Regions from separate parts of the Homo sapiens genome. Here regions 1, 3, 4 and 5 are each linked to region 2. The links come from fine-mapping of genetic effects on gene expression. A gene starts in region 2. Each other region holds a variant in brackets. All regions are shown on one strand. Distances are from middle to middle.

Region 1 (6,419 bases), 190 kb before region 2:
CTAAAGAGGTTGACATAGAAATCCAAGAAATACAGAAAACCCCAGCTATGTACTGTACAAGATGATCATCCCCAGGGCACATAGCATGAGATTTACCAAGGTCAATGCAAAAGAAGAAGAAGTCTTAAAGGCAGCTAGAGAGGAGGGTCAAATTACATACAGAGGAATCCCATCAGGCTAGCAGCAGACCTCTGCAGAAATGTTACGAGCTAGAAGCAGAAGAGTTTGGCACCTATTTTCAGCATCCTTTTTTCCTTTTTTCTTTTCTTTATTTTCTTGTTTTGAAGCATCCTTAATGAAAAGAAATTCTGACCAAGAATTTCATATCCCACGAAACTAAACTAAATAAGTGAAGGGCAAGCAAATACTGAGGGAATTCATTGGTACTACTACAAAAACAGACACATTGACCAATGGAATAGAATAGAAAACTCAGAAATAAAGCTGTACACCTACAACCATCTGATCTTTGACAAGGCTGACAAAAATAAGCAATGGAGAAAGGACTCCCCTATTCAATAAATTGCATTGGGTCAACTGGCTAGTCATTTGCAGAAGAATGAAATTAGACCCTTACCTTTCAGCATATATACAAACTAACTCAAGATGGATTAAAGATTTAAATGCAAGACCTCAAACTATTAAAATTCTAAAAGAAAACCTAGGAAATACCTTTTTTGACGTCGGCCTTGGCAAAGAATTTTTTGGCTAAGCCTCCAAAAGCAGTTGCAAGAAAAACAAAAATTGACAAGTGGGACCTAATTAAAGAGCTTCTGCACAGCAAAAGAAACTATGTACAGAGTAAACAGACAACCTACAGTATGGGAAATAAATATTCACAAACTATGCATCTGACAAAGATCTAATATCCAGAATCAATAAGGAACGTAAATCAGCAAGCAAGAAGCATAACCCCATTAACAAACAGTTAAAGGACATTAACAAACACTTCTCAAAAGAAGACATATAAGTGGCCAACAAACATATGAAAAAATGCTCATCCCTATTAATCATCAGAGAAATGCAAATAAAAACCACACTGAAACACCATTTCACACCAGTCAGAATGGCTATTATTAAAAAGTCAAAAAATAACAGGCTGGATGTGGTGGCTTATGCCTGTAATCCCAGCACTTTGGGAGGCCAAAGCGGGTGGATCACTTGAGCCTAGGAGTTCAAGACCAGCCTGGACAACTTGGCAAAATCCCATCTCTATAGAAAAAATTAGCCAGGCGTAGTGGCATGCACCTGTAGTCCCAGCTACTTAGGAGGCAGAAGTGGGAGAATCACCTGAGCTCGGGAGGTTGGGATGCAGTGAGCTGAGATCTTGCCTTCTCACTCTCTCCCGGGCCACAGAGCTTGAGACCCTGTCTCAAACAAACAAACAATAACAACAAAAATAACAGGTGCTGGTGAAGCTGCAGAGAAAAGGGAATGCTTAAATGCTTATATACTGTTGGTGGAGATGTAAATTAGTTCAGCCACTGTGGAAAGCAGTTTGTAGATATCTCAACTTAAAGCTACCATTTGACCCAGCAATCCTATTACTGAGTATACACTCAAAGGAAAATAGATCATCATACCATGAAGACACATGCATTCATGTGTTTATCACCGCACTATTCACAATGCAGAGACATGGAATCAACCTCGGTGCCATATAGTGGATTAGATAAAGAAAATGTGGTACATATACACCATGGAAATACTATACAGCCATAAAAAAAAGAACGAAATCATGTCCCCCTTGCAGCAACATGGATGGAACTGAAGGCCATAATTCTAAGTGAATTAACACAGGGACAGAAAATCAAATACGCATGTTCTCACTTGTAAGTGGGAGCTAAACATTGAGCACACGTGAACATAAACATGGGAACAACAGACACTGTGGACCACTGAGGGTGAAGGAGTGGGACAGGGATTGATAAACTACCTGTTGGGTATTATGCTCCCTAACTGGGTGCAATATACCCATGGAGCAAACCTGCACGTGTATCCTCTGTATCTGAAGTTAAACTTTAGAAAAAAAAAAAAGGCATCAGGAGAGTGGAGTTAGAGAAGGATTTGTGAAGACATTTCTTTGGAGAGGGCTGTTGCCTCACCCATTTTCCCCCTGGCATGCTTCTACAGACAGATACACACAAAGTTGAGGAAGGGGGTCCTACCAGAGAGAGGGAGGCTTCAATCTGTGTCCTCCGGGGTCCTGGAAGCATGTGTCTAGAAGCATATAAACAGGTATCTAACTGTTTCAGAGACGGTGGCACTCAGTCTTAGGTGTTAGGACAGAGAAGAGGAGAATTGCTAGCGTTTTAGAAAGTGATCCCATGTTTCTGGGAGAGAATGGTCAACAGTAGATTAATCCCAAGGGTAGGCAGGAGTATCTCCTTGTGCTATAGGGAGGAAGGAATGAAGGAGAGTTGCTGCAGACAGAATTAGCAACACTCTCAGAGTTTGTTAGATCCAGAAATGAGCAATGCCAGTGGTGAGAGTGGGTTGGTGTAGGAGTTATCCTAGATCCTGTTCACTAAGGCCACCTAGAGGGATGATGGGATGTCAGCAGAAAGGAATCTGAAGTTTCCACATTGCTAGAGGATGTGGAGAGAGTGAGAAGAATAGAATACATTTGCTAGATTAGTGGAACTGCAGATGAGCAGGGCTGGCTTCATGGGCATGCAGCCTCTGCAGTTACACAGGGCATCATACTTGATTTAATGTTCTGTAGTTGCTATCTTGAAACTCTTCGTAATTTTTCAACAAAGGGCCCTACACTTTATTTTGCACTGGGCCCCACAGCTTATGTTGCTGGGCCTGCAGATGAGAGACTACCCATGAAGTTGGGAGTCTCTGCTAAAGCCAGATTGAGAAAAAGAGCTTTAAATATCTGTCAACCCTGGAGAGCTTGGCACCACCTTACAATGGCACCAGTTAAATGCAAATTTCTAGTATTTCAGTAGGGTCCTGAAGCTACAATTAGCCACAGGAGTTGGCAGTACTAGGGAAAAGGAACCAGCCACC[T/C]GCTACTGCCTGTAACCATACTCTAGCCTGGGAGCTGAGGGGAATTGGGGCGGGGCAGGGAAGTATGTGCAAATATTACTTTTCAGCAAAGACTGAAGTGTTGAAAAAAAAAAGAGGACATTCTAATTGAGACTGTATTTGTGGATGAATGTAAGAAAAATGGAATAAGACTCATGGGGCCTAATGTAATTTACATCCAGGGACACAGAAAAAGTATCTCTCAAATAAATGTTGAACAGGTAGTGGGAAAAGAAAACAGAAGTGCATTCTGATCACTTTGTTTAATATGCCAGGTATATATAGTAACTTTTTCCTTATAAAGTCATCTTTGGGCTAACTTTACAGAGTGTTTTATATGATTTCATAGAATTTAGAGAGTATATTATTAAAAGCATCCAGTGAGAGTTTTATGTTACTGGTTTTTAGTAAGATGTTAAGAATAATTGTATTAGAATGTGCTTTGCCTTACTTTCTTTGTCAGATGTACCCAAAGTAGCCACTATTTATAGAAGATGCATCATAACCACTATTGTCTATTTTCACATTCATTATAGCTTCCTCTTACTTGATTATACAAATTGCTATTGCCTATACTGCACTCAGAGATAATTGCTCTAATTTTTGTTATATAATTTAATGTTTGAAATAGACTATATATATTGACTCACTATATTGACTTTATTAAAATACATATTTTAGATACTTGTGGTTATGAAATCTTCGTCAAAATTTGAGATTTTTTAAATGAAACTTTTTAATGCATTTTTTTCTCTTTACATAATTCAGTAAAGTGTTCATCACTTTAGTTTGTTACTGTTTCTTCAGAAATACTTACCTTTGTTATTTCTGAGTCAGTACCTAATATGAGAGAGAATAAAGCTTGTAACCCAAGTAATATATAGATACATTAATATCTTAGCCATAAAGTAAAATTTTTAAAAAGTTTTTAGTACTGATTACTTTGATTTAATACCTTTATCTCTGATCTGTTTTGTACTTTTTTATATTGGGAGTTTATTAAAATACTTTATTTCAGCCTTTCCTCTCTCCTTAGATAATTTTTGAAATGTAGAACTCTATATTTATCACTACCAGTTAAAGAATCAATTATGTTAAATTGAGTTTTGTATATTTGGTAGACACAAGACTGATAGATTTTATTCACCTATGTAGTATAATAGTGCATTTTCTTTAAACAAATATTTTAGTGTTTTTTAAATATCTCCTCTTTGAAAACCTCCTTTATCCCAGTCTACCCCATTTTATAGCTCCTTTAGAGCAGGGATCAGATCTTAAATCTCTTTGTAGTAATTATACTCTTTGTATTATTTATATGGTGACGGGCTCAAATAGGTACTCAATAAGAATTGAATTGTTGGCCGGGCGCGGTGGCTCACGCCTGTAATCCCAGCACTTTGGGAGGCCGAGGTGGGCGGATCACGAGGTCAGGAGATCGAGACCATCCTGGCTAACATGGTGAAACCCCATCTCTACTAAAAATACAAAAAAATTAGCCGGGTGTGGTGGCGGGCGCCTGTAGTCCCAGCTACTCCGGAGGCTGAGGCAGGAGAATGGCGGGAACCTGGGAGGCAGAGCTTGCAAGTGAGCCGAGATCGCGCCACTGCACTCCAGGCTGGGTGACAGAGCGAGACTCCGTCTCAAAAAAAAAAAAAGAATTGAATTGAATACTTTTCAAATAAATATGCCAAATCTTTGAGTTAATATTTGTCTTATATTTTTATAGGCTAACATTTCCAATGATCACTGGCCATCTTTGGTTCAAGAGGCTACAACTGAGGCCTTGAAGCTTTGCTTTTGTCCACTGGCTGTTCTTTTACAAGCTTTGTTACAATTCAAACGCAAAATGGGGGCAAGGTATGAAGAATCTTCATCTTTTTCTTATAAATGCTTCTTCACTTTAAATCTTTCTAGGAAATAATCAAGGAAAGATTATAAACTTTAAAGTTTGTAACAGACCAATTTAACAAACTTTGGGGGGTATTTATATATCTGTATCTACTTTGGAAGAACTGGTTCCAGAAATCCAGTAAGGGAGAAACAAAGCCTTATATTTGTTTAAAAAGGCAATTTGATACATATTTATAGGGCATGAGGGGTTTGGCATGATAGCATTTCCAGTGAAGAAGGTCTTGGAGTTTTTGTTCTTCACTGTGTTAGGAGGCACCAACAGTGTGATGTGGGTTCTAGAAACAAACAAAACCAAAAGACCCCAACACAAGGCTACATTATCAGTTCTTGCTATTGTTATAAGCTATGAAAAAAGTAATAAATATTGAAAAGGCAGAGATATGTTGTTTATAAATGATGTGGTTTCCTATCTAGAAAATCCAAAAGCTGCTCTGATTAAAATACAAAAATTCTATAGCAATGTTTATGTTGAAAGAAGTGTACTTAAATTTGAAGAAAATTACTTAAAGATCATATGGGTAAAAAATACAGGCAAGAATACTTTAATATTTTGAAAATATCTAGTTCTAATATATACTACATATAATACAAAGCATCTGTAAGTAAAGCAGTGATTGAGGAGCAAACATCACTGGAACAGAATAGGTATGGTAGAAATGGAGGTTAGTACATATAAATATGTAGCAAAAGACACATCACAAAATAGGGATGGTGGAAGATTAAGACCATATGGCTGATTAGCAACTCCAGCACTATTTATTAACATTTATTTATTTGGGGCCATTTTTATGTGTGACTAATTTCACTAAGAAATGTTTTAGGCTATAATTTAAACTTCCTAATGAACTACTTCTGCTCATGCTCAGTGTTGGTAACTTAGAGAGTACTATCTCCCCTTCACCCCCTACCCCAATAATCTTTGTTAACACCTCCCATAATTTTTATCGCCTTCAAAACCTAGCCCAAATAAAAATGCAGTCTAAGAAAAATAACAACGTGCTTACTACGTGATCCCTCTGCAAAAGCATCTTCAAGACAAGTTATTTAGTTCCTGCTTCAAACTAATTGCTACTTAGAAGATCTTTCTGTTTAGCAGTTCTGAATATACTAATGGTTTATGTTGTTTTTAGCAGTACAGAAGTTTTGGAGTCATAGATGTTAGTAAATTAGGAAAGAAAAAATTAGAACACAGCTGTAAATCAGCCTGTTATTACATGGGTTTACATTATCATACACGTCCTTGAAAACATATGCTAAAAGCCTGATATGATATACATAGCCTGTAATGTAGACATTGAATATTTCTTGTTCCACTCTTTATCACCCTTGCATTATTTAGTGACTTATTTAGTTTCTGCCTACTTTTCAAAAAGATTGGAGGTAGAGCACTCAAAGTAGATTATAAAATAGCGACTGTCTCTCTGTTCTCTTTGGAATGAGGATAACTTGGAATAATTTACTTCTCTGCCATA
Region 2 (6,419 bases):
TAACACTTAAGCCACCACCAGCTTACACAGTTAGACTTAGCTATGATATTTATAATTTAGCTGAAGAGTTTTAACTGAAACTTTAAAAGGTTTACCTGAAACTTTGAAAAGTAAGGACTAACACAGAAATAAAATACAGAGAAAGGAAACTGGAGTGAAGAGGAAGGAAAAGCCAGTGAAAAATGCCAACCCTTCTGCTTTCACCCGGTGGGGAGGTACCTCCATAAAGGCAAATGTGGTTGGCTTTTCTTATTCTGTGTGGAGAGTGCTTCACAGCCTCTGTGTTTACCTTTGCAGTTGTGAGCTTGCCCTAATGTGGACTCTGCCTCACCAGTCCTGACTTTTCCCTCATTTGCTTCTCAGAGGCTTCCTCAGGAATTAGGTGGGGTTGGCCAGAACAGAGCTACAAAGAAAGGGTAGGCCATCGTAGCTCTAAGACTGTTTCATTCTCTAATTATTAAGGTTCCAAAGGAAAACTTTCAGCAGCACACAATTTTTTCAAAAAAACATGCTTTATTATTGTTTGCTTTTATTTATACTTTAAATTTTAAAATAATTATGGACTCACAGGAAGTTGCAAACATACTACATAGAGCTCCTGTGTGACCTTCACCCAATTTCCCCCAATGATATTATCATACATAACTATAGTTCAATATTAAGACCCAGGAAATTGCCATTGGTACAACTTATCTTATTCAGATGTCACGTTTTTATGTGCATTCATATATGTATGTAGTTCTATGCAGTCCTATCCTGTGTATAACACACATTCATGTAACCACCACCACAATCTAAATTTGTCTCATCATAACAAATAAACTTCTTTATTCTGATCCTTTACATTTGCCCCACCGCTAACCCCTGGCAACCACTATCCATCTCTATAATCTTGTCATTTCAATAATATTATTTAAATGCAGCCCAGTGTTTCTCCATTCACGTTGCTCTTTTTCCAAAGCATAGTATTCATATACTTGGGAAATACTGGGTCTACCAAATAACAATAATATCAACTATATACAGGCACTGAGCTAAGTCCTTTTTCCACTTAATCTTCAAAATAGCCCTGTGAGGCTATTTATTAATACCTGGCATTAGTATTAGTAAATCACATCACATTACCCTCACGATTAAAAAAGACCTCTAATGTCTCCCAATTTCATTTAGAGGAAACATGGACTCTCACTCTGGCTATAGGACCCACTCCCTTAGCTGACCTTTTGTTTCACTACATCTCTTACCAACCCCACCCACCTTGCTCTACTCTATTTGGAGTGGTATCGTTCTGTCCTTGAATATGCCCAGTCAAGCTGCTTCCTGCCTCAGGACCTCTGTATCTGCTGTTCCTTCTACCTGAAATTCTACAGTCAGATCCGTCAATAGCTGGTTCTCTGTCCTCATTAAGTCTTAACTCAAAATTTTATCTTCTCAGAGAGACTCTCCCTGTACACATAATGTAAAAAACCAAAAACCTCTCCATATGGGGCTGCCAGATTTAGCAAACAAAAACATGACACCCAGTTAAATTTAAATTTCAGATAAATAATAGTATTTTAGTATAAGTATGTCCCATGCAATATTTGGGACATACATATACTAATATTATTCATTGTTTCTCTGAAAGTCAGTTTAATTGGGTGTCCTGCATTTTGTCTGGAAGCTCTTCCTCTGTAGCCACTCTGTTATGTGGTACCCTGCTTAACTGTTTCCATGGGACTTTTGCATATTAGAAATTCTGTTTATTGTCTCGCATCACCTCCCAACCCTCACCCTCACAATAAGCTCCATGTGGGTGGGACCCTGATGCCCTGTTCACAGCTGCATCCCCAGAGCCTATCACAGTGCCTGGTATATAGTAGGTGCTTAATAAATATTTGTTATAAAGGTAACAAAAACAAAACAAAACAAAAAACTTAGGTTGGTAACACCTCCAAAGCATACTGCTAGCTAGACAAGACTGATCAGTGTGCTACCGCAGCTTAGGGAACTCTCCCGTTTTCCCCATTTAGGAGGACGAAAGAGGCATTGTGTTGCTGGCCTTTCAGAAGTCTCTCCTAGCAGAATCAGAAGACCCTGGCTGAGCAGCTTTGGGAGAAGCAAAGTCTGAATGAGCTAAAAAGCCTTTTCCGTTTGCCTTGCAACAAGCAAATGAAGTAACCAAAGAAAAAATGCGCTTGAATGAAAAGAACAAGATTCTGTGCGTGCCGAATCGGATCAAAGGCAGTGCGCATCACCCATCTTCGTCCACCGTAAACTCCCTGCAACTTAAGGGCTGGCTTTATCGTCAGACTCCGGAAATGCTAGAACCTGATCATAAGAGACCAGTGCAGAGGCAAATAAAGAAAAGGGAGGGGTGGATGGGGATGAAGTCAAGACAGAAGAAATTAAACTCTCGTCTTGGACCCAGGGAGCGCAACGGGGCGGGGGCAGACGTCTTCAGCTTTAGAACTCCGTCGGGTTCATCGCTCAGTGTGGACGATCGGCGCCCCCACGAGACCCATCGAGGGCACATAGTTTCCACTCCAGCTCGCTTCATCCGACCCAGACGATCGCCAGCGCGGCCAGCGGCCAGCGCACAGCGAGCTGCCTGGGCAACTGTGGCCGGATCCTAGGGAGCAAGCTGGCTTCGGGCCCTACCTAGCTCCACCCGGCTCCTACCGGCCCTCCCACCTAGGAGCTGGAGGATGGTCCCGGGGCGCCCCAGGGGGACTGCTGGTCCCCGGAGTCTCCAGCCAGACGCGCCTTGTTGTGTGAGCCGCGTGCGCGCCCAATTTGGAGGCAGCCGCCCCCGCCGCTGACAGGTGCTGCCCAGAGGGCGCCGGGTGCGGTCCCTGGCGCAGCTGGACGCGCACGCCCCGGTGCGTGCAGCTTCCCGAGCTCGGTCAGAGAGAAGAGGGAGCCAGGGCGCGGCCTGGGGGACGCCAGTGGACTGGAGCCGCGGAGCTTCGAGGGAAAAACTTTGCAGGCGCCGCGGCCGGGATTCGGTTACGGCTCCAGCCCACCCCAGCAGGTGCGGGAGGAAGAGGCAGCGCCGGAGTCCCGAGGCCAGAGAGCCTCGGCGGCGGCGGCCGCTTCTTTCCCCCGAGCTGGCCTGAAGTCGCTGGGCACTCCCGGTTTCTGCTGCTGCGCCCGCCGCCGCCGCCGCCGCCACCGCCAGCGCCGCGGGGACCCGGGAGGAGGTGCAGCCGAAGAGGGAGGAGAAGCAGGAGGAGGAGGAGGAGGAGGAGGGGAGAGGAGGAGCAGGGGGTGGAGGATGGAGCCCCGGGCTGCCGCGGCGGGCGAGCCAGAGCCGCCGGCGGCGTCCTCCTCCTTCCAGGCCCGGCTCTGGAAGAACCTGCAGCTGGGGGTGGGCAGGAGCAAGGGCGGCGGGGGCGGGCGCGCTGGGGGTCCAGAGCGCCGCACTGCGGACACCCCGTCGCCCTCCCCGCCACCCCCGGTGGGCACAGGGAATGCACCGGCCAGGGGGAGTGGTGCAGGCAGCAGGTGGAGCGGCTTCAAGAAGCGGAAGCAAGTGCTGGACCGAGTCTTCTCCTCCTCGCAGCCCAACCTGTGCTGCTCGTCGCCGGAGCCCCTGGAGCCCGGCGGCGCCGGCAGAGCCGAGCAGGGGTCCACGCTACGCCGCCGGATCCGCGAGCATTTGCTCCCCGCCGTAAAGGGGCCCGCGGCGGCCTCGGGAGCAGCGGGAGGGACGCCTCCTGGCGGACGCTCCCCCGACTCAGCTCCTTCCTCTTCCTCCGCCTCATCCTCCCTGTCCTCCTCGCCCCAGCCTCCCCCGAGGGGGGACCGCGCCCGAGATGAGGGTGCACGGCGTCAGGGCCCCGGGGCGCACTTGTGCCACCAGAAGAGCTCCTCTCTGCCGGGCACCGCCTGCCTGGAGCAGCTGCTGGAGCCGCCGCCTCCTCCCGCAGAGCCGGCGCGGAGTCCCGCGGAGTCTCGGGCCCCGGAGACGGGCGAGGAGCACGGCAGCAGCCAGGTGAGTGCCGGTGGCGCGGCCGGAGACAAGGTGCGCGGGACCACGCCTCCCTCTTCAGGCGTTCACCACCCGGGGAGCGGGGGGCGGGGGCCGGGAGGCGGGAGGAGAAATGCTATTAATTCTAAGTAGATGAAACAGTCGAAAGAAAACATCTCGCTCTGGTTTAGCAAAGATGAAAGAGTTCTGACTTGCACCCGGACTTTACTTTTGGTAGAAATGATACCTGTCACCAGAAGCTTTCTGAGTAGTCAATGAAAAGTTAGACCTAAAGTGGGTACTTTTTAGAGTTCTCCTGAAAGGAGATGTCCAGCCAAATCTCATCTTGGCAAAAGAAAAAACTAACCCAATAACTTAAAAACAATTACGATCACGTGTGGTGGTGTGGAGAGGTACCATTGGAAGCAAATGGCTGGCGGGAAGAAATAGAAACGTGGAGAGGTAAATTATGGCACATGTGAGGTCCTGTGCCAGGGAAAGCATCATCTCAGGCCTGCATCCGGCACCCCTTTCTTAAACCTTCCTGCTGCAATTGGATCACCGCCCTTCAAGTGGACAGCGGGAGCGTCTCCTCCCAGTTAGTCAAATGCATATGTTCCTATGAGCCTTGTGAAGTTTTAATAGTCACCTGAAGCACTTGCTTTTTAAAGTATGCTGCTTTATACATCATGTTGATTGCTCAGACAAGAGTCAAGGTTTGTAAAAGTGCTTTTACTAGAAATTTTATGTGTGGGACCCACAATGTGTCCCACTGAATAGCCGTTTTTACTCCCTCAATTTCGAAGAGGCACTGCTCTTTTTGTAAATGTTTATCAAATCATTTTAATTCTAGAAAATATTTTGGAAGTTTCACTCTGCCAGAGACCTAAAGAACATTTTTCTCCCAATATATCTTAGTTTACTTACACTTTCTCATTGTTTTGACTCTGATTAATTATGTTAGATGAATGACACTTGCATTAAAACTTTAGTTATTAGTAGATTAAAAGCTCAGCTACAAAGAAACAGGCTGTGTTTGAAGGGTAAGATACGGGAATAGATAGGCTTTCAGTTGGAAGTTTTTATAGTTCATGGACTGATTTCTTAGTGTAGCTCCAGAAAGTAAAGCAGAATATGAATATGTTTTGTTCCTTAATAAACAAAATTGCTTGCTGTAAGCAAACACCTGATGATCCAGAAAAATATTTTATTCTCAGAAGAGTAAGTAGAGATAATAGTGACAAAAAGACCAAATACATTTACCTTTCCTGTCATCTTGAAAGTGAACTGGATAGAGCCCCTGTTTTTGGTTTTAAAAGTAAAGTGATAAATGGTTTTAGAAGAATGTTTTAAATTCAGTATAGATGAATACTATATATTAAAGGAAGTATTTATTTTTGAGCGTGTACATAATCCTAATGTAGAAGAATTTCAGAGTTGGGGAACTTTACATTTTTTTCTTTCACTATCAAGGATAATAGAATAACAAATAATAATTGAATTATTTTGAAAGGTATATATCATATTACCGTGAATGTTAACTTATTAAATCACATTACAGTTCACTGAACCAAGATATTTTTAAAGCAAAAATAGATAACTCTGAATTTTTTATGTTCCTTTTTGCCAAAAAGTTTTCAGAAACTGTCAATCTTTATTAAAAAAAACACTACTATGTAAGTATGAATTTTGTATACAAAAGATATAAACTTATTCTGGAGAAGATACTAAATTAACACTATTATGTATGCCTTCACCATATGCTGGGCATTTTATAGCCCTACATAGTTTAACCCTCACAGCAGACCTATGTGATTGTCACTTTACAGATTCGTAAACCAATGCTCACATAGGTTAAATAAGCTTTCCAGGGTCACGTAGTTAGTAGATGACAGAGAGAAGTTTTGTACTCAAGTCAGTCTCCAGAATCTTTTTCCATTATGACAGCTACCTTTGACAACTTTTAGAACTTGTTCCATTTTTTAGATGTCTTTGGTCTTACTGATGAAAGTAGAGCCTTGCAAGTTTACGTATATTCTGGAGATTTTTCCCCATCCCTATATACAATCAATTCTATGATGGATTAGCTATCATAATTTGTAATTTGTTCTGTGATGTATTGTTGCATGTATATTTTGTCACGAATGAGATTATCATGATCTATAACTCTGAAGAAGCTTTTCATTATAGAGAATCAGCATTTCGACATAGACATAAGAGAAATAGAAAAGCTAAAATATCTTTCAAAAAATAAGAGAAAGATGGGATATAGGCAGACAGAATGGTAAACCCTGAGGGACTTGCCCAATGCCAGACACAGTCCCAGAAAGAGATACCATTTTTGGTCCCTAGCGTCTGCTGCTCATGGGGCCTTGTTCTCTGGGAAGTGGAGAGATTTCTCTGTAATGAGTCACAAATAATGGCTTTCAGCAGCACTCTCTGACCAATGTAAAAGAGAGGATTTCTC
Region 3 (6,419 bases), 150 kb after region 2:
GTAGGGAGAGCAAGGAGAAAGAGAAATGAAATCAAGAAGACAATGAAGATGAGCAGAACAGTGATGATCAGATCCAGGGACATGAAGGCATTCTTTTGACACTTCGGTATCAGGTAACAAAAAGTAAAACACAATGAAACTATCTAGGACTTTGCCTTCAAAAAATAGCCAAACTCTCATGTTGTTGCACACATACAACAGTGACCTAAATTGAGCCAGAGTCAGAGAATACCCCAGCTGTGTTCACAAGGGCTAGACGCTGAGAGGCAGATATTCCAGATTTAATCTGCAGAGTAACTGTAGGTATTTAGTGGATTACTGAAGTGTTTTTAAAACAAACTGTGGTCTTGAGTAACCAGCATACGCCCGTGGCAATCATTTTACACATTTTATTTGCTTCATCAAATTCTTTTAAATGTCTGTAACTAAAGCAAAGGTTAACTTTTGATAAGAGATTCCAAATTTATACAATCCAAATTAGTGAGATTTTACTTGAATGTCAAAAGTTATGTATCTTACTCTTAGTTAATAAGCCTGAGTAAGCTGAAGTGAAAAAAGTTTCAAATCAGTATAACCCCGTCTTTAAGGTTTTTAGGAAAGAGAGATGGCATAGGTAAACTCCTCTACCGTGAAGGTGAGCTGATGATATTCTTGATAAGGATAGATACACCAAGTTTCTTGGACTTGTCTTATGCCTCCTCCATTAGAAACCACTTCATTCTGAAACTGTGATCATAGAAGGGATGCATAATCTTTTCTAGTACATTCTCGTTAAATGGCACTTTTTTTTTTTTTTTTTTTTTTTTTGAGACGGAGTCTCGCTCTGTCGCCCAGGCTGGAGTGCAGTGGCGCAATCTCTGCTCACTGCAAGCTCCGCCTCCTGGGTTCACGCCATTCTCCTGCCTCAGCCTCCCGAGTAGCTGGGACTGCAGGTGCCCACCACCACACCCGGCTAATTTTTTTTTTTTTTTTTTTTTTTTTTTTTTTTTTTTTAGTAGGGACAGGGTTTCACGGTGTTAGCCAGGATGGTCTCGATCTCCTGCCTCGTGATCCACCCGCCTCGGCCTCCCGAAGTACTGGGATTACAGGCGTGAGCCATCGCGCCCGGCCGTTAAATGGTTCTTAAAGCAAAAAAATAGCCCAAAAGTTTTGTGACAGCAGTTTTTGAGAGACTGAAAAGAATATGCTTTTACCCTTTAAAATTTTCAAATCTTCAAAATACCAGTCTATTTTAAAAGTTTCTGCTTAGAATAATTTGCTGTTTGATGAAAATGCCTTCTGTCCTCCTAAGGTCTCTTCTGGACTATAGAGAAGTAACAAAAGTACCAATTGTGTGCATTTTTTCCCGTGTTACTAATTGCCTTAAACACCTTCAATATCCTGCTGCAAAGTCCCGGGTTGCAGATGAGGACATGAATGATAGCTGGCACTGTGGAAAACAGGACCAGAATCAATGAAACAGATGGCAAAAAACACATTTTTGCAAATATAAATTTTTTTGAAGAGAGAGTGAATGATTACTTTCCTGGAGGCAAAAGCCTATCCATCCTCTCTAGAAATGAGATGCCTTTTCTGCAATTCCAAATCTTGTCTGCATTGGAAGCATGAGTGTCATTGGAAGGTAGAGGTCAAGCTGAGATGAAAGTGGGTTTAGCTTTGGATGAGGGGATTCCAGCATGGAAGAGCAGCTCAGGGAGACCATCAAGTTCTCTTTAAGCTACACTTTTAAATTTAATGATTTTGATGTTTTTCTGTTTCTTCTCTGGATCATTTTATTTTTAAAGCAAAGCTTGTAAATATTAAAGTTGATTACCATTCCGTTATTCATTTATTATTCAACCATTTATTAAGCCCTATGCATCAGGCTGTGGGCTAGATAATAAGACAAAAATTAAGGAAAATTTTCACTTTTAAGGAGCTCTCAGTTTAGTGGCAAATGGGGCCAATACCACTTAACATTGTTCATAAGGAAACAGCTTCTGTGGATCTGCAGTTGTTTAGAGTTAGATGTGTTCTTGGATATGTAACTAAAAATAGAAACCTTTGATCTAGAAATTAACCTTTGGTGAGTAGCAAGAATTTATCTTTTTAAAATTAACTTTTTAAAATAAGGTTGATTTTGAGACTCCTTTTAAAAATTCCTTTGGCTAAAATAGCTTTGGAAAAAAAGGGGAAAATGTAAAAAAAGAAGCTCTCTTGTTCCCTAAGTGAGAGGCAAAGATATTGCAACAGGCAAATCTTGCTCTCACCTGCACTCATTTTCATTTGACATGGTGCAATGTTTAGATCTTTTTATTTCCTTAAGAAATTTGCATTTGCCGGAAAGAAAAGCATGCAAATATCTGTAAATCTCTAACCCTGTTTCCTCATGTTGGGTATATTCTCACAAAGCCTTCTAGATTACAAAGACATTAAGAATAATATAATTCAGCTCTATTTTCTTTGTTTTGAGCAGCAAATGTTTCTGGCAATTAGCATGCATCCATTAATTTTCTATGCTTAGAGTTTTTATTTTGGGCTTTAACATGAAGATCTAACTTTTTTGATGGATGTGTTCAATCATAATTATGTTTCTTAGCTGATGTTAAACTAATACGACTATTTGAAAGGAAAAAAAAACCCTAAATGTTTTATACAAGTTCTAAATATTAAATATTTTGAACATATAAACTCTAATTTTAAGATCACACTGACAACCTTATAATGTGTGTGTGTATGTGTGTATAATATACAGATAGAGAAACAGATCTAAATGAAGACTGTGACAAATTCGACACATCAGAAAAAGAATTAATTGAAAATAACTGATAATGAGATTGTCCACATACATTACAACTAGTTAAAAATTGCCTATCCAGCTAACGGGCAGGGTGTACTTTGCACACTAGAGGCAGTGACAACACCCTAAATGCACAAAGAAAAGATAAAGAAGATAATAATACCTTGTGATAAGGAATCCAGAGAGGGATGTGAGAGGGAGCAGCCGGTGGAGTGAGGGCAGCTGGAGGGACGGCGGCTCACATGGCAGTCAGTGGTGGTCTCTGTGAGGGGGTCATTCCTTTGGTTAGCAGACCTATTCCTGGACTCTTCAGAGGCCCTTCCAGACCAGTAACACTCATTCCAGGAAACCTCTCTTTAAATAGTTTGCTGTTTGTATAATAAGGCATTTTAGAAAGGAAACTTAAACGGAAAGAACAGATGATTCTTTGTGTATGCGACTAATTTAGTTTCCATCATTATGACACTTGCTCTTCTAGAAAGTTACAGGAGAGGATAGTGAGAAAAACCTGGATGGAGATTGACAAGGCTGTGTTCTTATTCAGCTCCACTGCTGCCATCTTCATAAGCTCTCTGGGCCTTGTTTTCTCATCTAAAAAGTGGCGCAGCTAGTCTCAATGCTCATATATTCCCATCGAGCTCCAAAACACATATTATTTTAATGTCGGGGGGGGGTTGCATCTCACAGGAAAGTCTATGAATGCATCTTGGTACACAATCATAGTGAGTTCAGTAGCAGACATAGCACAGTTCTTCTCCTGGGAGAATGAGAAAAGAGCATGACTTGAAATTACTGTAAAAGATGACCAGAAAAACAAAAGTGGGAGAAAAACACTTCCTATTGAAAAAAAAATTTGAAGTAATCTGAAAACACATTTGCGTGATTGTTATCTAGAACTGGAATTTCAGTGTTTTCTGTAGGACTTTTATTAAGTATCATATTTCCTGTAATTCAATAGTCATACTATTCAATAGTAATATTGAATAGTACTCAGTAAATGTTTTCTAAGAACATGTTGCTTGCAAATCATCAAGTTTGGTTT[G/T]GCAGGGAATCAATATGTTCCCCACATTAGGGAAACAGCCTTTTTTGGTGATTGAGCAGACATTAAAAAAGCAGAATTATTAATTCATTTATGATGTTTGCTTTATTCCACAAATATTTGAAGCAGCTTACAATAATGTATATACTAATAGACAATCAGAATAAGGGAAAATATAGATGAAATGGAAAACAATATTAGACTAGAGATCTACATACAAGCAATAGATTTCCACAAATGTGCCACAGTTGAGGTGAAATTTTGTCTTTGATCTTAGTAGTGGCCAAAGCTAAAAGAGAAGTTCAATGTCCATGCAAATAAGAGGATGTCAACTCTTTAAGAGAGGCAAAATCTTTGCTAGAATCTAGACCTGAAAGATATTGCATGCAACTTTAGTTTTGGGGGATACTGTTTAATGATGATATGTATTGAGCACTTACTGTGTGCTAGGCATGGTACAAAGTGTTTTACAAGCATTCTCTCATAAATCTTCACAGCAACTCTGTGAGCCAGGGACTATCGTGTTATTGACGACAATGCTGAGGCTTGGAGAATCCAATAAACTTTACATAATACATAGTAACAACTGGAAGCAGTGCTTGAACAATTGCGGAATCTATCCTCTTCATCACTAGGTTATACTTCCCCCGAAGCAAGCTTCCTGCCTCCTCTAGTGAGGCTCTAGGTCCTAAGCTACAAGCCAGCAACAAATACAGCACTAGATTTCATAAGGCTGTTGCTTATAACATCGCTGAAGGTAAGCAGGGGGCATCACACTGAAGGAATTCAGGAAAGAATTTCTGCTATAAGCTGAAAATGAATAAGTGAAATACCTTAGTAATTCTTTTCATTGTTGAGGTTTTAAACCTAGGCTGTCTAGATGAGTGGGTGGCATATACTTCACAAATAACCTTTACAAAATATAATTTTTCTCCATTGTAGTCTTGATGAAATTGATCAGGAAATAGTTCCAGGCAAGAGTCTGAAGTTACTCTTTGTTGACTGAAAGGCAGATCAATGTGAGGCAGGAAGATGTAGTGACTATTGCTCTGCCTTGAAGGCATCTAGACCTCTGTTAGTGCTCTGGCTGTGCCTCTTCCTAATTGTGAGATTCTGGACCAGGTACACAAATCTCCTTGTCTCAGTTTCTTCATCCGTAAAATAGGGATACTAATAGTATTTACATATAAAATTATTGTAAAGATTAAAAACATAGAGTCGGACACATTGTAAACTCTATTGTGAGCTAGAGCGTCTTCTCTCACTCTTCTCTCTTCTTGACTTCCTTCCGCAAAGATTTCCTCCCTTCCCCACTTCCCTCCCCCTTGAATTTTCCCTGTCCCCAACTTTTTTCCTCGCCACTTCATCTCTGTCTCCAGCTTCCCGTTTTCCATCTTCCTTCTCCTCTCCCTCTTCATCCCAATTCATCTTTTACATAATTGAGCAGATAGCTTAACTTAACATCTCATCACAAATCAGAGATACCAAGCCTGAACCCTTCCTGAATGAATAGAGCCATTTGCTTAAGAGACCAGCCCAAAGGATAACAAGAATTGTCTGGGAAGACAAAGGAAGTAAAATGTTTTGGGGGAGTACACAGGAGCAAGTTATTTCTTCTTGTGGGTGTTAGGGAAGGATTCACAGAGGAGTGATATTTCATTGGGTCTTCAGAAATAAGACCAGTGGATAAGGTTGAAGAGAGGGAGAAGGGATACCAAGGCTTAGAAATAATGATTACCAAGACATGTACATGAGGAGAAGCAAGTGCTTAAATGTTCTGGGAAGGTAGAAGGCTGATGCTATGCAGGAGATGAGGATAATAAAGTAGTTTAGGGACAGATTTTAAAACCTACTTCAATTATATTGAAATCTACTCTAATTGTAAGCTTCCAAGTGGATGCCAGAGTTGGCTTTCAATACATTTGCTTGTGATTCTCTGAAATGTATAATGTTTAATGAACTGATTTGGAACAATAAACCAGTTTTTACTGTAGTTGTTTTCAGTTTATTGAACCAAAATACTATTATGCTTACTGCATTAGTCAGGGTTCCCTAGAGGGACAGAACTAATAGGACAGACACATATATATAAAGGGGAGTTTATTAAGTATTAACTTACACAAACACAATGTCCCACAATAGGTTGTCTGCAAGCTTGAGGAGCATGGAGAGCCAGTCCGAGTCTCAAAACTGAAGAACTTGGAGAATGATGTTTGAGGGCAGGAAGCATCCAACACGGGAGAAAGATGTAGGCTGGGAGGCTAGGCCAGTCTTGCTTCTTCACGTTTTTCTGCCTGCTTTATATTCGATGGCAGCTGATCAGATTGTCTGCCTTCCCCAGCCCACTGACTCAAATGTTAATCTCCTTTGCCAGCACCCTCACAGATACACCTGGGAACAATACTTTGCATCCTTCAGTCCAATCAAGTTGACACTCAGTATCAACCATCACACTAAAGCTAATGATATTTCATTCAACTTGAAAACTTGTTTATTTTATAGGACTTTTTGGATTCAGGTTATAAACAATAAGTCATAGTTATCATTAATATTCTCAATTCACCACCATAGTGTATATTTTTCTTTCTTTCTTTGTGATTT
Region 4 (6,419 bases), 580 kb after region 2:
CTGGAGTTTGTGACAGGGAGTATGACCTGAGGGGAGGAAACCAGGAATATTAGATGATGAAAGCAAAATATGCCAGTGGACATTTAAGAAAAAAAAGTCTTTCCAGAATTTGCAAGAGTTACAAGTAAGTTTTGAAGAAGTATATTTTGGAGATCAATGAGGAGAGGAAAGCTGACTGCTTTTTGAAGAGTGGAGCATATCTCAAAAATCCTTTGAGGTTAATGCCCATTAACCATCAGCTGTTTTCAAAATAAAAGAAGTTTGTTTTTTTTTTTTTAAATCCTGAAGCTGGGTTACAGTGATACCTTTTTCATTTGCTATGACATGACAGTGGGCTGGATGGAGATTAAGACTGTATTAAGCAAACACACGATAAATTGTAAAAAACCATTATCGAGCCCTTTAAAAAATTGATGTAGATGGTTTTACTTTTAATGTAATGTGTTATAGACAGTGAATACCATTACTAAAGTTCACATCAGGGCCCCATGTACTTTCCAACAGGATTTCCCTTATTCTTGCTCTGTCATTCTATTGCTTTCTGCATCTCAGCTGCAGATCCCATACAGCTTCTAGAGTGAGCACTTTCTTCCCCCAAGCACCGTCTCTCATTCCTTTGCTGTTCCTTTCTTTGCCAGAAAGTGGCCACCTGACCAGTCTTCCTCTGAACTCTGTTTAAACAGGTGCAATACCAAGAACTGAAACCAGATCCTTCTCATAGCCCATATAAAAGAAAGAAAAACAATCTTGGCTAGCCAGCTCCCAGCACTGAGGAGACCAGCATCTGTTTGGGAAGATAAAAGAAAAAGCCCTCAGCCTCAGCAGCATTTCCTTTCTTTCTGCTTTTTATTTATTTTGCCTTTTTATCATGATCGAGAGAATCTGTAAATAGTGTACAAAGGCATATGTCTTTGAATATATACTTCTATTGTACAGACTCAACTTGATAAAGGTTTTGCTACTGCTGTGTCAAAACCTTGTTAGCTGTGGATAATAATATAACACACTGAAAGAACAAATATAAGAATGATAACACTGGAAGATATATTCTTATCTAATTACTAGTGGATTAAATACTCACCTGTGCTCTGATTAAATCTACATCAATTGTAAATGTCGATTTGATTTTAAAGTTTTTTTTTAATGCGACTATTTTTTATCTGAAAAGTAATCCATTACACTTTTCTATGTTTTATACATTTCAAAAGGGAGGGAAATTCCAAAGCCTGAATAATGGAATGGATACATTTCAATTTAACATATATTCTGGCTTTAGATCCCGACATTCACTCCTGTGCAAATTACTTAGGTATGACTTAGGCTAATTTTAAGCTAATAAGTGAAGGTACATTCACTCCCTCAAGAGAATCAATACTCAGAAGGTTACAAAGTTTTCTTTATAGAATTTCAATCAATCATTCCATCTAAAACCTTAAAATCTCTACAGGACTACATAACATAAATACTGCCAGTTTATAAACGATTGCCTATCTGAATTTTTATACCTACCACTACTTTAATTTATACAGTTAGTTAGCAAATTAGCAACCCAGTAAGTACAGTTATCAAAAATACTAGGAAACTATATCCATATCGCTTTTGGTGTCAGATTGTATCTGTGCATCTAAAAATATTTTAATAAATACTCAAGTGCTCTCAGAGAAAAAAAAAACCTGCTTTCTCATTAGATTACTGAAATGCTTTAATTCATACTATGATTTTGTTATTAGTGTGAATTTTAATGTAGAGAATTCAGTGTGCTAAGTGATATGCCAGTGTTTCACTACATTCATTTATTAAAAAAAATCATTCTTGATTATGCATGAAAACCTGTTTTGTAAAATAAAATAAACTGCTTGGGGGTGGTGGTTGCCTTTATCAATGTTTCACTATTATCATAGAATCTATACTTAAAAATTGCATTCCCAAGACTCTTAAAGTAGTTTTTATATCTCACTCCCTGGTATACTAAGGGAGCATAACTCTGGAGAAAAAATAATTTGGTTGGTTGAGAATGTCTTACTTCCCTGACTTGGTAGGGGACTACACTCAGTTGAAATTGCAGCAGACAATGCTTTGCACTACTTTATTAATAATAAACTTGGATGGGGTAAAAGTGGGGGTTATACTGGAAAAACTATAGAAAAGCTAAAAGAAATGTATATTTCACTCTAAAGGAAGATTCTTTAACAATAAATGTAATCTCATTGAAGCTGATTTTTAAAGTATTTTTATTTTAGAGATAAGTTGTTAAATACTATTTCTTATAATAGAACTATTTTGATCTGTTTATATACTATGCTTGAATGTCAATTAAATTCCCTTTCTACAGAAAGGCTTTGACCTCAACATGCTTTATTTAATGTATCATGTTTAAAATGACATGCTTCTGTCTGCATACCATCACTGTTTGTTGCTAAAAACATAATGTTCCATGAACATGATGTTACTACAGAAAGTTTATTGATGAGATAACTGTTTGAAATAACTTTCAATTATACCTTATGTGAGACTTTTATGTTCTGTGCTGACAATGTGTACTCAAATGTCTATAAGCCTGATATTCTACAACCTCAGATGTATCTAGTGGATAGTAACCATTAACAGATGACTAATTTGTTTCACTGTATCAAATTTCAGATGTTTAGTTCAATGGTAATGCTGACTACACATTCACTGTATTAAATACAAAAGAAAATAATCTTTCCCACGTATAATCAGCACTCCTTTTTTTTTTTTTTTTGGTGGTTCAGAGATTGATGAGGGATTGTGTGCATATTCTTAAAAACTATATGTCACTTGGAGAAAAACAGATTTGGTTTAAACAAATAAGACCTTTTTCCTGAAACTCTGACTCTTATATGAAAATACCTCTGGAGGGGTGAGCAACCAATGACATTAACAGAGGAATAAGAACTAGCTTGAGGCACAAAAGTGATATTCAGGGAAATCTTCATTGCTTTTAGAAACTACTACATTCACAGGCTGAAAACAGAATATGTATAGTTAAAATTTTAACTATTTATTTCTTTCCCCTTCTCACATAG[C/G]TGCAATTCTGTCTTGAGAGCTGCCTGACTTGCCTTCATTTTGAGATCTGTGATGTAAATATTTCTTAAGAGACTGAATGTCACTCAAACATCTACTTGGACTGCTAACTATTATAGATATTGTGAACTACTAAATATATTCCTTTAGTATCTTTTAGTGAGTAAATTCACTGAGTCATTATTTATATTCATAAACTATTACTGACATTCGTTGTGATAATTCATAAGAAATGCGTATTTGTGCTTTTAAATTTTTCCCCACTTATCAAAAAGAACATAATAGTACTTCTCATTCATTCTGGTACTGTTCCAGACTCAAACTGATTGATTGATTGAATCTCCCAACTCAGATTATCCTAGTGCATATAGAATGTTCAAAAACTGGAATTCCTACAGAACCTATCAATCAATCAATCAGTTTTTGAACATTCTATATGCACTAGGATAATCTGAGTTGGGAGATTCTTAAAAGGACTCTGTGATATATTTATCGAATACCAACTGTATGACCCTGTTATAGACAACGGTCAAACCAATGATTGTATACTAAAATCAAATCTGGAGTTGAAGTACAGTGAGAGCCAAATTTAATTGATACATTTCTAAAATTATCTTTTATAAAATTTTTATTCTGCATTTAAAAGTGAAGAAAAACTCAGAAGTAAATGCTTATCTAGGGACCACAGGAGCTTTTTTTCCACTTTGATCTCATATCTAAGGTCTCCTATGCTCAAAGTAGTCTACATTTGTATTAATGTTATTCAAAGGCAGTAATTTCAGCGAATAAACTTGTTAAATGGGCCTAAATGTTTATAATGTTGACTAAGCATTAAGAACAAACAAAAAGGTATAAGGCAGTTATACCTTTTTGCTCCAGAAATACAAGTAAAGACAGCTACCATTATACTTCTTGAAAAACGTCTCAGGTATTGCTAAATTAATACTTGCTTAAATTCTTGGGCTTTAAATGAATAGCGTGATTTCACACTCTAGTGTGAGTGAGTGTACAGATGATGTCTATTCGTTGGTTTGATTAGGGTATCTAGAATCAGCCTTTTCTAATTGCTCAGTAAAGTATGAATTAAAACCACATAGAAAATAATGTGGTAAATTCTTTCTTACAATAGTGTCATTCCTTTCAATTATAATTCTTTTTCCTGGGATGATTGGTGTAACTCACTGAAAGAAAACAAAACATTTTTTTTTCTTTTTTTTTTGGTGAAAATGTTACCCTCTGGTACCTCAGTTTCTTTTATATAGTGGCAATTTGAATAGAGGCAGTCACATAAGATTTACTTCAGCTGAATGGCTAAAATTTGAGAAATACTATTGAAAAATCTCATTAAAAAATAGTATGCAAATAAAAACTATCAAATGTCCAAAGCAATCATACAATGTAGAAACTAAGAGCACCATGAAAGGTTTCCTGGAACTTAATGATTCTATCTGTGCTTTTCAAAGGAGGGATCTGGGTTAAGAATCAAAAAATAAAAACAATCAAATATTGTAACTGACCTCAAATGAGTTTCAATTTATTGGGCTCTTCTTTGACATTCTAAGCTTAAAAAAAAAAAGAAAAAAACAAAAAAACCACCAAAAACCCATACAAAAGAAGTGTTCTATTACATGCACAAGCAGTATTTTTGTAAAGACAGGTTTTTAAATTTATATGATTATCCGTACCTCCAAATGTCACTGAAAAATTATTACTCCATTTTTTACAAAGTAAAATACACTGCTGTTCTGCTTTAGTCAATTAAGTGTTTATTATATTAGGCAGAAAGATTTGTTTCAAGGAAAGCGGAAATGGTTTACGTAAGTAGCCGTGCCTACGTTTTTTCAGTATGTAGCAAAATTAAAATTGCAGTGCAATTATCCCCTACTACAGATTCTTCAATGTTCCTTCCAAAGAGAAAAGGAGTGGCCAACCTGAACCAATGAGTGAACCTGAAAACTATCTTTTCTCTGGAGGAATACATTTAAGGAGATCCTGAGGCCTGGCTGAGTGGAACTCACTCCCACTTGCTAGTGGGAACTTGCTCCCACTAGTGAAGAAAGATGATAATATAGGTTCAGTTTCACTTTCTAGTCAAAGACAAGCTCAAAAGGGCTTGAGTCCATTTGAGGGATTTTATTTTGCCAGAGTTCAAATGGTGACAGGTTTGGAGGAAATGCTAAATTCATAGAAAAAGCACACCTGGCCCTCACTACTCATACTTGCCTTTTGCATTACTGGAGACACCTGAGAATAGTCAAGCATTGTTAGAGACAGCTGGACCACAGAAGAGAGATGAGGGGAAGGAAATGACATATTTGTCCCAAGCTCAAAGAACCCTTTTTAATAAAGCTATCAGAGAACTGAAACCTTATAACTACATGCCCCACAAAACATTCTTCTTTTCTATAGTAGTAATTATGAAAAGTCAAAATCTCTGTGTACCTTGTAACACTGCAACCATGGAAAACAATTTATCGGTGTCAAGAACTAATAAGCTCTTGGAAAAATTTTACAAAGAAGTGTCTATTTGCTATTATACAAGGCGGAGTATGTAATTTTGTCATCTTTGTTTTATAATAGAGGAAGTAGTTAACAATTTCTGAGCAAAAAAACACAATGGTATACCTACCTCTTACGTTTGGCCTTAAACTCTTACAAACTTCAGTTTCCATTAACAGAGAACCTAGCAAACATAAGAGGGTCTTTGAAGCACACGAGAAGCCATCCAGAAAACACTATACATATCTGACAAAGGAGTTTTTAAACAGATTAATGTGATGTTCCATTATTTGTGTGAAATTGCTTAACATCACTTTTAAAAACATTCATTTTCAGAAGTAAGAGAAAAACTTTTTTTAAAAATCAAAACATACAGCGCTTGGTAATTTAAGCAAAAGCAAAATACTCTGACTTATGGATTGGGGGTACCAAGTATTCACCATCCAATCTTGCACACTATGATGCTACGTACTTGATACATAGTACATTTAATGCATATGTACTTGATTTCCCTCCCATAACTGTGACAACAGCCCTGACCGGTAGGTAAGAAATCTTCCCCCTAAAAACAGATTGATACTATCAGGTTGTACTATAGTTACCATGTAGGTATCCAGGATATTTATACAAAACACAACTGTAAAAAGATTGTTCTGAGTTGTACTACTTAAAAGAGTACCTTTCAAGAAGCTATTTTGCCGGCCTTCACAGAAGAGGTGCAAAATAATATGCTCTGGAGAGCTGTGGTAAGACACTCTCAGAATTCTCTCAACAGAGGGTTGTTTGTATCTGCATTAATGTTGCAAATAATAAGTTATAAAGTGGATATTTTTTCAGAGTGATGATAGAAGAAAAAAATTCTTTATACAGTAGTA
Region 5 (6,419 bases), 210 kb after region 2:
CAAATGTCCAAATCCTTACTCTGGGAAGTGAGCCATAAAAGTACACATGCCTAAAGGACAGGGGTAGATTTTGTATCTTTCAAAATTGGAGGTGGTGTGGTAGATTGTTTTGATACACTGTATTTGTTGAAAGTGGTTAGCAAAAAGAGATTCCTCCAAAGCTTATCTTTGAAAAAGAGAAAAGAAAAATGTAAACAACCAATGAACTTCCAACCCTTTCTGTTAGAATTGATCTGCTATTTTATATTTATATAACTGTACTCTTTTTTAGGCTATGAGAAGAGAAAAAAGATGACTTTTCACAATTAGAGGAGTTAATGACTTATGTCCTACTATACCAGTGAACATGATAGATTTGAAAACAAAACTTCGCTTTAAAACCTCTTAACTCTTAAGATTTAGAAGACAATTAATTAAAAGTTTTCTTGTGCTGGTGATATTAATAAAAGTTATTCCTTCTAAAAATTCAAAACATGATCACCATTTATTTTAATAAAAAATATAAAATATTTTTTATTAAATATGAAAAGTGTATGCTATCTTCATATCCTGTGCTGCAATGTATAGTTTCAAGAGATAAGTGGAATTTATCATCATGCTATCTTATGAATAAATCCTAGCTCTGCTTTGTAATAAAGTTCATGTTTGCTTTGATTCCAAGAACTATACAAATCAGCTATATGACCATTAAGAGATGAAGGTAAACAGATGGAATTAATAGGCATATATCTTTTAAAATTTTTGCTAAATATAAATGCAGTGAGATAGCATGTGGTCTATGTGACAAAACCCTGGGCTATAGGAGTGCAGTGGGAAGAATCAACACTTCTTTGTAATATCAGAGAAAACCTCTAGTTTTGGAGGTGACAATGAAGCCCTTGTCTTCTTTTGATTTTGTTTTTCTATCTACAGAGTTTGGAAACACTGTAATGCTAGATGACAGTCCCATACTTCCCATAGGTGCTTAGTATATGTTAGTGATCCTGTGAACATTAAGGTAGATGAAGCATTTTGAACTCACCAGGAGAGTCTGTTGTTATAAGTGCTGAGATTTGTAATGCTTATCCCCCCTGAGATAAACCCAAGTAGGAAAGCTATGGAGATGGTTTGTTGGGTTTTAATTCCATCTTAATTTAGTTGAGATACTCAAATTAGTCATTTAGTCTCCCTTTGCTTGAGTCATTTCACTAGTGGGATAGGATTAGTAGTATTTATTCGCGGCAATTTACAGCATACTGAAATATAACAAATCAAGTTCCAAATCTCACTCTACAGGGATTTCTCTCCAAGATGAAAATAATAATAATGCCTAGCATTTAAATCAGACTGTATAATAACTATTTATGAACTATCTGTTTTTCTTACAGCAACTTTATTAGGTATGGGTTCTATTATTATTATTATTATTTCCTTTTTATGATGGAGACACTGAAGTACAAGGAAATTAAATGAGTTATTCCTGACATCACACAATTAGTAGTAGAATGACCAGAATTGAACCTAGGTAGGCTGCAGAACCAAGATGCTTAATTACATTCTGTGCCACCTTCTGTTAGAATCCTTTGGTCTTAGTAATTTGAAATGACTGCTATAAAGTACTACAGAGAGGAAAATACGTCTTTTTAATGTTACTACATTTAATCATTTTAATGACTGCAACATTCTTATTCTTAGTGAAACCCAGGCCTTTATGAACCAGAAATATGCTGAAGTTGTTCGTGAATTTACATAAGATGGGGGCTTTTATTAACGCAAAATATGTCTGGAATGAGCATACATAACTGAGAGCTCTCCTAGGTGATCATAGTCTTTGGTGATACAACAAGATTTCCCTTTTTTGTTGTTGTTTTTGATGTGCAGGTGGGGCAGAAACAATTTTCAGTCTATATTTAGTTATCTGATACAGTCCCAGGAAAGCTTTAGGGAATTTTGTGTTTTGATAGAAGATTAATGTAATGTCTGCCTTTTTTCTGTTCATTCCCTAAACATTTCCTGGTGAAAGTCATCATTTGGGAAGGAGCACATTGAACGAATTGTAGAATGGAGAAGTTTAGGTCTGTTATACAACTAGGTCCATTTTGATTTGCTTTCCCCAGAGACTCCACAAATTATCTTTGAAATTCTTGGGTAACTTTCAAACCTTCATGTTTCCTCGGGTCTTGCAAACAAGATGGATGGATGGATGGATGGATGGATGGATGGATAGATGGATGATAGGGATAAATGAAGGTGTTCCCATATCTGTTGAGTCATGACTCATGTACCTGACACTGGATTGGGACCAGACTAGAGAATGTGGGCCCAGAGGAATGATGTATGAGATGTGAAAGAGTTTTCCTAAATTCATCTCATATTTTCTTGTCTGATAGTTTTCAATGTGGAATGAACATAGCTATAAGCCATTTCTTGCCACAAGCCTTTCCTCCTATTTCATGTTAGTTTTTAAAATTATATATAACGAACTGGCCAGGCGCAGTGGCTCACGCCTGTAATCCCAGCACTTTGGGAGGCCGAGGTGGGCGGATCACGAGGTCAGGAGATCGAGACCATCTTGGCTAACACAGTGAAAACCTGTCTCTACTAAAAATACAAACAATTAGCTGGGCGTGGTGGCGAGCGCCTGTAGTCCCAGCTACTCGGCAGGCTGAGGCAGGAGAATGGCGTGAACCCAGGAAGTGGAGCTTGCAGTGAGCCGAGATTGCGCCACTGCACTCCAGCCTGGGCGACAGAGTGGGACTCCGTCTCAAAAAAAAAAAAAGTATATATAATGAACCATAATTGCTTACTTCCTTGATTCAAAAGCTAAATGTGTGCAGATATATACATATATATTTACACACATTATTCATATGCAGAGAAAAAAAGAGACAGATAGAGGTGGGATAAAATTAAAAGGTCAAAATAAATTTGAACACCTAAATTAATGAGAATTGTTAAACTTTGACTATTTTATAATTTATTATGAAGAAAATAACCAAGATGCAGAAGAAACAGTCATGGCAGAATATCAAAAAAGAAAGGTACTCTTAAGATCATTTTTAAATGCTTGTTTACAAAAGTATATAGCATCTCTTTTCATTTTGGAATGGGAGCTTTCTTCCCCACAATATTTCATTAGAGAACTCAAACTAAGAGTCTGGGAATCAAAATTTATTTGGCACAATTAGTCAATTGTGAGTGATCATTTCCAAAATAAGGAAGGTGACTAAAGGCTTGAGTTAGGAAATTCTGCAAGTTTCAGAGATGGTATTAAGATGTTATTGTTTCAAGTTTACAAGGCGGGGAGGGAATACAGAAAATATTTTCCTGTAAAAATACTTGATCAAGCACAACTAAATAGGGTGAAAAGTTTTAAACAATGGAAACAACTGTACTGGGG[T/A]AATTACACATTTGGCTTTGACCCAAAGGAGTCATTAAAAACAAAAAGAAAAAAGAAAAAAACCAATTATCGTATAGATTTTTCCCCCACCCCTAAACAAAATAGCATATTTTCACGGTTTGAGGACATTCTATTCCTTTATGTACAGATGCGTTGTGTTATTTGAAATACATTTGATTTCTGTGGCTCACTGTTTTCTGGTGGTGATTTCCCTCGCTTAGAAATAGCGTGTTCTAAGTCAGCAATCAGTGGACAGCATTACCCTGGCCCACTGGAAACCTTAACTCCATGTAACTGCAGTCTGAGACTCAGTTTCAACATTCGTCAATGAAGGACTCGTTCTCATATTTCCCAGCAGTCTTTGAACTATTTTAAGATAGGGATTCCTTTTTTTTTTTTTTTTTCCTTTTTCAGCTTAATGGTTCCTGTGAATCTTGAAATCAATTCTGAAACAATTACTTCTAAGTTTAATCCACCTGGAAAATTTTCACTAAGCTCATACCTGGAGTTTGAAAAATGCTATGCTTAATGTAAACAAATGAATGTTCATGGCAAATGTGTACAGTAGTCATTACCCCTTTATCTACAGTTTTGCTTTTCAAGGTTTCAGTTACCCATGGTACTGTATGATATTTTGAGAGACAGAGAGAGAGGCCACATTCATATAACTTTTATCATAATATATCATTATAATTTTCTATTTTATTATTGTTACTGTTATCTCTTACTGTGCCTAATTGATAAGTTAAACTTTATCATAGGTATATATGTATAGAAAAAAATAGCATATATAGGGTTCAGTACAATCCACTGTTTCAGGCGTCCACTGGGGGTGTTCTAACATATTTCCTGAGGACAAGGGGACTACTGTACTTTAAATGTGTAAATAGCTGCAAAGAATCATTAATACACCAGACAGAGGAAGTCTCTGTAGCCTTATTACTGGTTTTAAATTATTGAAAAATAACACAGCATATGAATATTCAAGAGTTTTTGAAAGCTATATAACAATTCCACAAGTATCCAGATTACCACTAGGAAGCCACTGATAATGGGAATAGTCACTTCTGAGAGAAAGTGTTAAGAAAGTTATTGTTTCAAGTTTTCTAAGGGGTAGAAACAAAGATAAAACTTTTACGTAAAATTATCTGATCAAATATAACTAAATAAGGTAAAAATATACACAAGTTTTAGACCACATGGCAGGAGCTTTAAAACAAAGAGCAGCGTCTCCATCTAGGTGTTTTTTTATATATCAGACATTAATTTTTTTTCAGAAATTAAGGACTGAAAACTATATTTGCTGCATTAAAATATTCTTCCCATTATATTCTGACCTCTTCCTCATTGTATCTATTATTTTTGCAAGTTTTCGTGAGAGATTATTTTTACATTTTACAATTTTAATTGAAGTTTTATAAACCAAAATTAAGGAGAAGGTTAACTAAAAACCAAACATCACTTTGATAAGTTAACTAAAAACCAAACATCATTATAGAGAGAATAAAAGGGGAAGTTAACTTATATTTATAGGCTCAGAGAAGTCCTCTGTGAGAAAGTGACTTTTAAGCTGAGACCAAGGATATGTAGAGTTACTTTTGGTTTCCCTGCTGTTTGAAAGTTTGTGAGGATTAGAGAAAATGTATGTAAAGTACCCATTTGATTTTAAAAGTTCAGTTCAATGAGTCAAAGCAGTTCAAAGTGTTGTACCAGCTGTAAAATGTCCATGATCTCTTTCTTTACCTGAATAGTGTATAATTCATATTTACAAAATGTTGATAGTACAAGGTGCCTTAGAGATCAACTAGCTCAACCCTCTCATTTTGCAAATAAAAAATATTCTGCCACAGGCAAATTAAATGACTTTTCCAAAATTATACAGCCAGCTCCCGACAGAGCCAAGCTGGGCATGGGGTTGCTGTCATGTACCTCTGCAATCTTTTTACAACATCAGTCAACAGGATCATCCCTATCTGAATTTAGTATTTAAATTCTGCATTCAATTTTCCTGCTTATTAAAATGTTAATTGTGCACAGCATAAATCAATTTAAGCTTGACCTAATTTCCTTGTGGCCACGAAACATTTTTTTGAGCCATATTTTTTGGAAGGACATATTTTACGCCCTACGTAGAACCATAGATTCTACCTAGAAGCTTTTCCGCATACCTGAAAGTCTGCCTTCATTTTTATTCACTTGGCACTGCACATATACTTGTAATCACACAGATAGGTCCACATTTAACCACTTGTGCACACCTAAGATTGGTTATACTTCACCCGCTCCAACTTTCCAGATCCTAAAAATAAATGCGTGTTCAAACTTCATAAATACAAATTATTGTATTAGCAAAAATGTATACACCTATCCAAATCATTTAGCAAAACAAATGACAATTGATTACTAAACAATACTCTATAACTATTAATTATACCTTTGTCATCAAAGTAGTAATGCCCTAGGAGTTGCCAGCCATCTCTCTTAGTGGCCCCTCCAGAAGTTGGGTGGCCACACCCAAGCAACAGCACTTCAAAGTGCTCAGTCCTCTACACCTTCAAGTGGATGGTGCTAAGGGGCTTGGCCTTCACCTTACGGGATAGTGACTCTTCAACTGCATGGTATAGCAGATTCACCAGGGAATCTTGCTCAAACTACATGTACCCAGGCCTACGCCTGAGAGATTCTGAATCATTAGGTCATGGGTAGAGCCCAAGAGTGTAATTTTTTTTCTTTTTTTTCTTGAGACGGAGTCTCACTCTGTCGCCCAGGCTGGAGTGCAGTGGCACCATCTCTGCTCACTGCAACCTCCACCTCCCAGGTTCAAGCGATTCTTCTGCCTCAGCCTCCTGAGTAGCTGGGATTATAGGCACCCGCCACCACGCCCGGCCAAATTTTTTTTTGTATTTTCAGTAGAGACGGGGTTTCACTATGTTGGCCAGCCTGGTCTTGAACTCCTGACCTCGTGATTCACCCGCCTCGGCCTCCCAAAGTGCTGGGATTACAGGCATGAGCAAGAGTATAAATTTTAAGAAAAGCCCAG

Direction of the effects. Positions count from the first base shown, and alleles are read on the strand shown. Sizes are in standard deviations (SD) of each study's normalised expression. Not every link is listed here.
In carriers of allele G in region 3, the expression in tibial artery of the gene that starts at base 2,738 in region 2 tends to be higher than with T alone (small effect, 0.14 SD a copy in GTEx).
As copies of T replace A in region 5, the expression in skeletal muscle of the gene that starts at base 2,738 in region 2 goes down (moderate effect, 0.47 SD a copy in GTEx).

The links.
Region 1: its variant is fine-mapped to the expression of MCTP1 in cerebellum (GTEx, PIP 0.92).
Region 3: its variant is fine-mapped to the expression of MCTP1 in tibial artery (GTEx, PIP above 0.99).
Region 4: its variant is fine-mapped to the expression of MCTP1 in whole blood (TOPMed, PIP above 0.99).
Region 5: its variant is fine-mapped to the expression of MCTP1 in skeletal muscle (GTEx, PIP above 0.99). The same link has a PIP of 0.9 or more in esophagus muscle, left ventricle and visceral fat.

Annotation. Positions count from the first base shown.
Region 1 is chr5:95,468,254-95,474,672 of GRCh38, reverse strand. SKIC3 (SKI3 subunit of superkiller complex) reads left to right here. Exons shown (of 43, transcript NM_014639.4): 41 at 4,763-4,893. Among named protein-coding and RNA genes, the nearest start is that of FAM81B, 80 kb to the right of the region's middle. The variant T/C (reference allele first, on the strand shown) is at 3,019.
Region 2 is chr5:95,281,413-95,287,831 of GRCh38, reverse strand. It overlaps MCTP1 (multiple C2 and transmembrane domain containing 1), which reads left to right and starts at 2,738. Exons shown (of 23, transcript NM_024717.7): 1 at 2,738-3,976. The coding sequence starts at 3,257. RefSeq lists silencers at 3,390-3,449, 3,530-3,649.
Region 3 is chr5:95,135,268-95,141,686 of GRCh38, reverse strand. The region is part of intron 1 of MCTP1 (multiple C2 and transmembrane domain containing 1); the gene reads left to right. LOC105379085 (a long non-coding RNA gene) reads right to left here and starts at 3,113. Exons shown (of 8, transcript XR_948575.3): 1 at 2,943-3,113. The variant G/T (reference allele first, on the strand shown) is at 3,822.
Region 4 is chr5:94,701,832-94,708,250 of GRCh38, reverse strand. MCTP1 (multiple C2 and transmembrane domain containing 1) reads left to right here. Exons shown (of 23, transcript NM_024717.7): 23 at 684-4,561. The coding sequence ends at 755. Among named protein-coding and RNA genes, the nearest start is that of SLF1, 86 kb to the right of the region's middle. RefSeq lists an enhancer at 5,034-5,103. The variant C/G (reference allele first, on the strand shown) is at 3,048.
Region 5 is chr5:95,073,817-95,080,235 of GRCh38, reverse strand. The region is part of intron 1 of MCTP1 (multiple C2 and transmembrane domain containing 1); the gene reads left to right. Among named protein-coding and RNA genes, the nearest start is that of MCTP1-AS1, 98 kb to the right of the region's middle. The variant T/A (reference allele first, on the strand shown) is at 3,380.